Regions from separate parts of the Homo sapiens genome. Here region 2 is reported to be linked to region 1. Evidence: microRNA targets listed by miRTarBase, many of them from high-throughput screens and not tested one by one. Region 1 holds a microRNA gene; the other region holds the end of a gene's coding sequence.

Region 1 (5,076 bases):
ACAGATTCTATATTTATAAAAAGAAAGGAAGCAAATGTTTATATTTATAGAAATAAAGTAAGACTTTTCCAGTCAATAATGAATAAACATTGCCATCATGGCTTTTCTCGGCTACGAGTTCTTCCATTTTGGTTGTATGTAGATGCTCTTTTTATATTTTTTCATTCTAAAAATGGCTTCACTGAACATCCCAGTGCAGGATTTTGGTTCCGGGCCCAGCAAAAGTAGGGCAGGATGTGAGAATGCAAAACGAAAATTGGCCGAAAATTGAACTAAAATCATCTCGGGCTGCGGTTTTTATATAAGGAAAAAATTCGAGGAGAATCCAATGTTCTCTGAAGTGCTTTCTATTCACTCTCCCGAGCAGGGATGAGTAATGTTCTGCGTGTAACAACTTCCAGTAGGAAGGAGAAGTGTAACTGTCCCCAGGCAACCTGAGTCACCACCCAGCTCCGAAGCTAAGCTGGAGGGCCACTGGGTATCTTGCTTGAGCCAAGTGACTGTCAGCACCCACAACGGACTTGCTCCTTGGTTTGCTTTAGGCTTTGGCCAGACCCGGGACCCTCCTTTTGAGGCACAGAGGGGACCTCGTGAATGCTCCAAGCGAGGAGATGACTTGAGAAGCTGAGAGCTGGTCAATCCCAAAGAACTTCATCCACGATTTTCTCCTTGAATAGTTTCAGGTCCATAAGTAATTACCGGCCCATACCTCTGTCCCAGAGAGAGTGTCAGGGGATGTGGAGGTGCTCGTTGTGGTTCAGAGAGGAAGCCAGACAGGGTCTAGGGCAAGGCAGTTTAATACAGTAGCCTCTAACCGCACGTAGCTATGAAATTCTAAATTTAAATTAACGAAAATTAAAGAAACTAAAAAATTGAGTTCCTGAATCGCACTGGTGCTCAAAAACCACTTAAGGGCAGTGGCTATCAAACGGCACAGATTGAGAATATTTCCATCATTGTAGGGAGTCTGCGAGGGTTAATTTTAGGTGTCAACTTGGCTGGACTGATGGATGCCTCAAAGGCTAGTGACGTATTTTTCCGGGTGTAGCTGAGAGGGTGTTTCCAAAAGAGACCAATGTGTGAGTCAGCAGGCTGGGAGAAAGACCCACCCACAATGGAGCGGTACCATCCAATTAGCTGAAACACACAGGTGGAAGAAGGAGGATTCTCTCTCTGCTCTCTCTCTCCCTCCCTCCCGTAGTGAGATGCCTTTTCCCCTCATCAGACTCCAGGTTCTTTGACATTTAATGGGGGTCTCTCTGGCTTTCCACCTCATATTCGGGGCTGCACGATCAGCTTCTGAGGTTCCTGGACTGAGTTTCGGGTTCTGAGGTTTCTGGACTGAGCCATGCTACTGGCTTCTCTGGTTCTCCAGCTTACAGATGGCTTATCATGGGACCTCTCCCCCTCTGTGATTATGTGAGCCAACTTCCCCTAATAGGGGAGAATCCCAACTTCCCCTAATAGGGGAGAAACCCCTCTCATATATCCTGTTGGTTCTCTCTCTCTGGAGAACCCTGACTAATACAGAGTTCTAGGGGATAGTGCTGGTTAGATTTTATATAGATGGAGTGTCCCTTATCTGAAATGCTTGGGACCAGAAATATTTGGGATTGGGAGTTTTTGGGATTTTGGAATATTTGCATCATATTTACCGGTTGAGCATCTCAAATCCGAATATGTGAAATCCAAAATGCTCTAATGAGCATTTCCTTTAAGAATCATGTTGGTGCTCAAAATATTTCAGATTTCGGATTGTTTCAGGTTTGAGATGCTCAATCTATTAACAGATGACGAATTAAAAACAACTGAGAGGGATTCAGGGTTCAAAGCTCCCCAAGCATTTCCTATCTCCCGTGAGAAGCTTTCACTTGGCTGAAGCTAGCAAAGTTTTCACATAGGCATTAAGGTTGCTTTTTAATAAAATAGTTTAATTGAGTGTCCTTTAAAGTCCAAAGACAAGGGACCCATATAAACATACACTGCAGCTGGGCACGATGGCTCACGCCTATAATCCCAGCACTTTGGGAGGCCAAGGCGGGTGGATCGCCTGAGGTCAGGAGTTCGAGACCAGCCTGGCCAACATGGTGAAACCCCGTCTCTACTAAAAATATAATAATTAAATGGGCATGGTGGTGGGTGCCTATAATCCCAGCTACTTGGGAGGCTTGAGACAGGAGAATCACTTGAACCTGGGAGGCGGAGGTTGCAGTGAACCATGATCGTACCACTGCACTCCAGCCTGGGTGACAGAGCAAGACTCCATCTCAAAAAAAAAACATAAAACTGCAGGAGGCCTGGGCCCCCAGAATCCTAGTAAGGAGTGGCTGCTGTTCACAGCACTGAAGACTTGAGATGGGTGGAAGGTGGGGATGAAGGCAGTCGAGGCTGTGGGTGGGGAAGCGGGTAAGCTGCCAGCTTTCCACCTTACTTCTAGGAATGCCTGCAGGGAAGAGAATGGGTAGGAGAAGGGGTAGCAAATGCTAAAAGGACATATTTGGGAATCTTGACCATGTGGTTAGGTAAGAATCCCTGATGAAAAACAATGTTGGGGAGAAGGTTAAGGGAAAGAAGTAGAATGCTGGAAACAGAATGATTGAGGGGCTCCTGTTCGGTACCTCCTTGCTCTTTCAGGCCTGGCCTCACTCCTGCTGCTTACCTCCGCCAGCAAAAACAGGGGCTCAATCACGTCTCTCTCTACTTGCAACTCAAAATGTATCAGCTCCTGAGCCAGCTTGTCCTCCGTCTCTCCACAGAGTTTCAGCATCTTCCTGTAATCCAAGGGGGAAAGAAATAGTGAATACTCTTGAAGACAACATTTCACTGGCGTTACCCTCCCCTCACCTCCTGGCTCACTTGTAAACTTTCACAAGTCAGTGTTAATAAGCTGGCTGATCTCCATGGCTTCCCCTGGGCCAACCTGTTCCAGCTCTCTGCATTTCTGAAATAATCAATTCTTCCAAAAGGTGCCACTCATTGTGTGCCTGGGGCACAAGGGGAAATGTGGGGAAACATGAGAGAGAAAACAGACACACATGCCTATAAACACATGCTTCTATCTCTGAGGAGAACATTGGATAGCTAAAATCTGCCCGCTAAAAAAACATCATCTTCAAATACAAAGCAAAAGCTCAATTTCAATAGGTCCTGATAGAAAGAAAGCCCTGACTCCTAAGCCACGAAAATGTAATTAGTACATGGATATATAGACAATTATCCAATGAAAAAAAATCCAAAAGTTGATTAATAATGAGCAAACGACAGAAGACCTGAATGAGTAGAAAGTCATGCCATCTTCCCAGATGACACAATATACTATTTCAAAGATGTTAAATTCTACCCAAATTGTACACAGGCCATTCTCCCATTGTCTGGTACCCATTTTAACTAAAACTCAAGTAAAAAGTTATTACAAACCAGCCTGGGCAACATGGTGAAACCCCGCCTCTACTAAAAATATCAAACTCAGCTGGGCATGGTGGTACATGCCTGTAGACCCAGCTTCTCTGGAGGCTGAGGCACGAGAATCACTTGTACCTGGGAGGCAGAGGCTGTAGTGAGCCTAGATAGTGCCACTGCACTCCAGCCGGGGTGACAGAGCGAGACCCTGTCTCAAAAACACATAAACAAACAAAAAAGCTTTTACAAGTCAACAAACGTATGAGCAGAGGTAACTGCCTTTTTACTGTGAGGATATTCCTTTCCTGTTCAGATTTTCACATTTTTACTCTACATGTATGTGTCCCCATACAATATATAATACTGCTGCTTTGCTTAGTTCAGTCTACATGCATGGTTTTATACTGAGCATATCCTGATGCTACTTGCTTTTTTTGTTTGGATTTTTTTTTTGAGGTTTTTTTTTTTTTTTCTTGAGATGGAGTTTCACTCTTGTTGCCTAGGCTGGAGTACAGTGGCACGATCTTGGCTCACTGCAACCTCCGCCTCCTGGGTTCAAGCCATTCTCCTGCCTCAGCCTCCTGAGTAGCTGGGATTACAGGAGGCTGCCACCACACCCGGCTAATTTTTTGTATTTTTAGTAGACATGGGGTTTCACCATGTTGGCCAGACTGGTCTCGAACTCCTGACCTCAGGTGATCCACCCACCTCGGCCTCCCAAAGTGCTGGGACTACAGGCAGCCTTGCTTTTTTACTCTATCATTATGTCTGGAGCTTACCCATGTTGGTACATGCGGAATCAGATCATTTTGCAATGGAGAATTTCGTTCTTTGAATATACCACCATTATGTTAAGCTGTCCCACAAACAAGAGTTTTTGGCTATTACATGCAGCGCTTCAGTAAATATGCTTGTGCAGTCTCTTTGTGCATGTTTGGAAATTTCACTAGCACAAATGGGAGTTCCCATTGCCCTATGCCCTTGCCAACCCTTGGTCCTGGTAGGTGTCTTAATTTCTGTTAAACTGGTGGATACAAATTATTATCTCCTTCTGGTTTTAATTTACATTCCTTGACTGCTAGTAAGACTTAATATCCCTCTCCCATGAAGTGCCTGTTCATATTCCTTGGCTATTTTTGTATTAGGATCTATTTATTTGAATTTATTTGTAGGAACTTCATATACACACGTGTGTGAAGGCAGATTTTCACTCTTTTTCCTATCTGCTACAAATGTCAGTGCCCAGGTGTGCTTTTATCTTTGTATGTCTTTAATGGTGCCTTTTTTTTTTTTTTTTTTTTTTGAGACAAAATCTCACTCTATCACCCAGGCTGGAGTGCAGTGACGCGTACTTGGCTCACCACAAACTCCACCTCCCGGGTGCAAGCAATTCTCTTGCTTCAGCCTCCCGAGTGGCTGGGATTACAGGTGTGCACCACTGCACCCAGCTAATTTTTTATATTTTTAGTAGAGACAGGGTTTCACCATGTTGGCCAGGCTAGTCTTGAACTCTGGACCTCAGGTAATCCACCTGCCTCGGCCTCCCAAAGTGTTAGGATTACAGGCGTGAGCCCAGGTAATCCACCTGCCTCGGCCTCCCAAAGTGTTAGGATTACAGGCGTGAGCCACTGCACCCAGCTTAATGGTGTCTTATATCTGATTTTCTGGTATTTATTC
Region 2 (5,070 bases), not on the chromosome of region 1:
CCCTGTGAGTCAACCTTGTTCTTCTCTGGATCGAACCCCTTCCTCAACCTGCATTCCTTCTCATAAAGCCCCCCTTGCTATCCAGTCTCTATCCTATTCACCCAAAATAATGTCTTTCTGGCCTCTCCCTGTTTTCTTAACAGATGCAGGAGACACCAAACAGGGACTTAGTCCTCGAACCGAGTTTGAAAAAGATGAAAACATCAGAATATTCAACAGTATTAGTGTTGTGCTACAGGAAGACTAAGAAAATACATTCAAATCAACTCGAGAATGACCAGTCCTGAGAGAACTCCATCAATCCAGTCCAAGAGGAGGAGGACGAAGGATCCTCACAGGAGGACGAAGACCTAGACTCATCTGCAGAATCTTCAAAGCAGGATGAAGACCTACAATTACCTGAAGGATCTTCACAGGAGGATGAAGACCTAGGGTTATCTGAAGGATCTTCACAAGAGGATGAAGACCTAGACTCATCTGAAGGATCTTTGATGGAGGAAGAAGACCCAGACTCATCTGAAGGATCGTCAGAGGAGGGTGAGGAAGACTAATTAAACATGGAGAAACCAAATTGGACAAATCCTCACCACCAACGGTGATGATTACAATAAAATCAAGTTTGAGAAGCTGATGGCTGCATATATCTATGCCTGTTTTCTGATGGTGGGGGAGAAGGGAAGGGAAGAGGTAGGCATTTGAGAAGGGAGGGATATGAGGTCCTGTAGGGTTGGTGGACAGACTCACAGGTTGACAGTAAGCCAGACATTGTAAATAAGGCCTGGGGGAGCACTGATTCCTAAAGAAAATTTTCTTCTTAAAATTTCCTCCCACAGGAAGTGGAGATGTGTATATGTTCATGCAACTGTACCCGGCAGCACATAGTTCTGCTGAATGTACATATCAAAGGTATTCCCATCCCTTTTCCATTTGATATTTTCCTAGGTTAGAAATATATGCTTTATAAAGAGTTAATGTTCTGTAAAACACAAAGCACAATACAGACATACACAGACACCTCTGCTCACTCTCTCTAGAGGGATACAATTAAAAACATTGGTTATAGGGCCGGGCACAGTGGCTTGCGCCTGTAATCCCAGCAGTTTGGGAGGCTGAGGTGGGTGGATCACCTCAGGTTTGTGAGGTTTTCAAAGAAAGATCTTGATCAAAAGAGGGAATGTGAAGCTGACTGTGTGAATGAACCAGCTTCTCCAGTGCCAATGAGCCTCATTTCAAAGCAGTGGAGATAACTAGAAAATTGTACTGTTACTATAAAAGAATAACAAAAGGGGGAAATTGTAAGGGTAACTAAACATAAAATTGAGATTTTCCTGTTGCCAAAAGAGCAAGAAGAGACCTTCCCCATTTCACTTTCCTTAGAGCATTTCCTTGAGAAAATTTGTATTTATAAATTCTTCCTTTGATATGTAAGCCTCTGGCCACCCTATAACCCAGGAATGTCTTGAACTTGAACTCCAGGCCTCAAGTGATCCTCCAGCCTCAGCCTCCCAAAGTGTTGGGATTACAGGTGTGAGCTACCAAACACCGCCACCAGGAATGTCTTTCTTCAGGGCCATGGAGCATCTCTTTGAAAGGTGAACGTTGAGGAAGATGATGTCTTTGTCTCCCTGTCACCAGGGGAGTTTAACTTAGGTGCCTTGCTCCAAGCCGTAAGCACCTGCTTGTCATAGAGATATGAGTTTTATTTTTCCTTCAGATAAAGGCAATTAACTAACACAGATGGGTACTCCAGTTACTCGATGAACTTAGGACTTGCCTGGGAGCATTTAGTGTTCACCCTTGGCTGCTGCTGTACAACAAGGCCAATTACCTACATATCTGGACTTTCTGATTTCTGCTACCACTTTTTATTTTTTGTTTTGTTTTTGTTTGTTTGTTTTTGAGGTGGAATCGCCCTCTGTTGCCCAGGCTGGAGTGCAATGGTGCAATCTCAGCTCATTGCAACCTCTGCCGCCCAGGGTCCAGCGATTCTCCTTCCTCAGCCTCCCGAGTAGCTGGGATTACAGGCGTGCACCATCATGCCCAGCTAATTTCTGTATTTTTAGTAGAGACGGGGTTTCACCATGCTGGCCAGGATGGTCTCGATCTCCTGACCTCATGATCCGCCTGCCTTGGCCTCCCACAGTGCTGGGATTACAGGCGTGAGCCACCACGCCTGGCCTCTGCTACCACTTTTGGATTGTATGAAACACTACACTTCAAAGTGTGGGATCTGGCTTCCTAGACAGCTGTCAAAGGGGCAGTTGATGCAATCTAGAAGTGTAGGGGAGTTCGCACCTGTGGGGTAAATTTTGACCAATAAGAAAAGGAACCAGGAGTGAGAGTCAGGTACGTAATTCCCTCTCCTCTCCTCTCCTCTCCCCATGTACCATTCCAGGCATTGTTTCTCAGTATAGTCTGTCTAGAGGTGTCCTGTATGGCCCAAAGCCTGTTTCCTTGGGAATCTGAGCTAAAGCAATGGGCATTCAAACACTCGAAGACAGTGTTAAGTGTTGTGGAGGACCCAGATCTGGGCAGAGGAAAATTATCCCAATAAGAAAATGGACAATTTGAGGATGTGGAATAGAGGGAAGGACTAGAAGAACCAGTAGTAGTATAGCTTAGGGGTACTATTTTTGGAGAAAAAGGCAGTTCTGGTGATTGTTCCAGTGAATTGCTCAGCTCTGTTATATATATATATATGTTTATATCCTTTCTTTCCATCATTCTCCCCTATGAAATCATCCATAAAGTATCCTTTTATAACTCTCTATTGCCTGTGAAGTGAATTTTCTTTTTTTCTTTATCTTTTTTATTTAGAGATAGAGTCTCTGTTGCCCGGGCTGGAGTGCAGTGGTGCGATCTCGACTCACTGCAATCTCCGCCTCCCGAGTTCAAATGATCCTCCCGCCTCAGCTGCCCTAGTAGCTGGGACTACAGGTGCGCACCACCAATGCCTTGCTAATTTTTTTTATTTTATTGTATTTTTAGTAGAGAAAGGGGTTCACCATCTTGGCCAGGCTGGTCTTGAACCCCTGACCTCAGGTGATCCACCCGCCTCAGTCTCCTAAAGTGCTGGGATTACTGGCGTGAGCCACCGCGCCCAGCCTGTCACTTTCCTTTTGGAGAATAAAACATATTGAGTCTTGTGCCAAAATGCAGGGGAAGCTGCACCCAGACAGGTAACAAAATATTATATATATATAGATAGGTTTTTTCTACATACCAATATTAACGATTTAGAAAACCAAATTGAGAAAAATTACACTTATATAGTGACAAATATACATAAAATATCTAAAACCAGATGATTGGAGCAAGATGGCAGATAGATCCCGTGCCCCACTCAACATTCCATTGAACTGGGAAGAAAATGTTTTCAAGGGTCAATTCTCAAGAGTAGAGGAAAATAAGAAAACGTGTCAGTGGTTCACCAGAAATATTGAGGCATTCCTGGGAGATAGAGTAGATGTGATCAGACTGGTAGAGAAACCCAAGGAGACAAGAGCATCACTGTAGACGAGAGATGCTGTTTGAGACAAAGACTTACTCCGTCGCCCAGGCTGGAGTGCAGTGGCGTGATCTCAGCTCACTGCACACTCTATCTCCCAGGTTCAAGGGATTCTCCTGCTTCACTCCCCACTGTAACTGGAATTCACAGAGGCCTGCCACCACGGCCAGCTGATTTTTGTATTTTTAGTAGAGACGGGGGTTTCACCCTGTTGGCCAGGCTAGTCTCCAACTCCTGACCTCAAGTGATCTGCCTGCCTCGGCCTCCCAAAGTGCTGACATTACAGCATGGGACACCGTGCCTGCCCAGGAGATGATCTTTGTAACAAAGCCTCTGAAAAACTCCAAACCCTGAATCAAAAAAACACGGAGCTGGAAAGGGCCTTAGGATAATCATCAGGTAGGTTAATTTAAAAGTTCATTAGAAACATCTGAATCGGCCAGAGTCCCCTCCAACACCATCCTCAGATTGGCTGGCAGTAGCCACTTTTGCCTCTAAGATGAAACTCTGATAATTGTTCATTAAAGAAAGTGAAGGCCTGGCGAGGTGGCTCACACTTGTCATCCCAGCACTTTGGGAGGCTGAGGCAGGAGGATTGCCTGAGGCCAGGAGATCGAGACCAGCCTGGGCAACATAGTGGATGCTGTCTCTACCAAAAATAAAAAACTAGCTGGGTGTGGTGGCGTGTGCCTGTAGTCCCAACTAGATCGGAAGCTGAAGTGGGAGAATCCCTTGAGCCTGGGAGATCCAGGCTGCAGTGAGCTGTACTTGCATCACCGCACTCCAGCCTGGGCGACAGAGTGTGATCATGTCAAAAAAGAAAAAAAAGAAAGAAAGAAAACAACAACAACAACAACAACAACAACAACACACACACACACACACACACACACACACACACAAATGTAACGTATCAGAACTTGGTGTAACTTCAGCCCTTCACAAGGAGAGAAACACATTTGTGGAGAGGGGACCATGTTCACTCTTTATCTATCCATGATAGACAGATAGTCCGGAGCTTTATATACCCATGGAACCTAAGGAAAAATGTTGCCTGTCATAACTCACAATCTTCCAGCCACCCTTCCTTGTATCTGTCTTGTGGGCTTGGGGAACCAACTTATGGATCCCATCGTCCCAGGGAGAAAGAAAAATCAAATCCTTCATTATCTTTTTTAGGGTATGCTCTCCTCTATTTGCATGGAGGATACGGTATTCAATATCTAGTAGCCGAATGTTACATTTGGGTAATACAGAACTATATTGGGATAAAATCGAATTTGTTTCCTCTGAGACACAGGTAGAGGTACGTCCACACTGACCTGGGTGGCAGCCACCTCTTCCTGCAGTGCCAGGCAGGGCATGCTCACAGATCTGGGGAACCTCTTGCTCCTGGAGCCCCACAACCTCCTTCCTGGCATCCTCTCCCTCTGGTGGCTGTGACAGCCCACACTTGGCCTTGGGTCTCCCCTGCTTCTTTGCCTGCCCCTCTTCTGCCCACCCTGCATATCTCTGTCTCCCACTGTCCCTGCTGTGACCACGACTGCCTGCCCTCCCTACAC

What was found. The annotated mature microRNA hsa-miR-1269b reads CUGGACUGAGCCAUGCUACUGG and lies in region 1 at 1,337-1,358, shown strand. An mRNA with a match to its seed (bases 2 to 7 or 8) in the 3' UTR can be bound and repressed. Matches are read on the target gene's strand: a 7mer-m8 pairs with bases 2 to 8, a 7mer-A1 pairs with bases 2 to 7 and ends in A, and an 8mer does both.
Region 2: the mRNA of SPANXN5 is a reported target of hsa-miR-1269b. Seed matches in the 3' UTR shown: 8mer at 304-311.

Annotation. Positions count from the first base shown.
Region 1 is chr17:12,913,595-12,918,670 of GRCh38, reverse strand. MIR1269B (microRNA 1269b) reads left to right here and starts at 1,329; the gene lies at 1,329-1,403. ARHGAP44 (Rho GTPase activating protein 44) reads right to left here. Exons shown (of 21, transcript NM_014859.6): 5 at 2,660-2,771.
Region 2 is chrX:52,791,705-52,796,774 of GRCh38, reverse strand. SPANXN5 (SPANX family member N5) reads left to right here. Exons shown (of 2, transcript NM_001009616.4): 2 at 144-631. The coding sequence ends at 287. Among named protein-coding and RNA genes, the nearest start is that of SPANXN5, 3.2 kb to the left of the region's middle.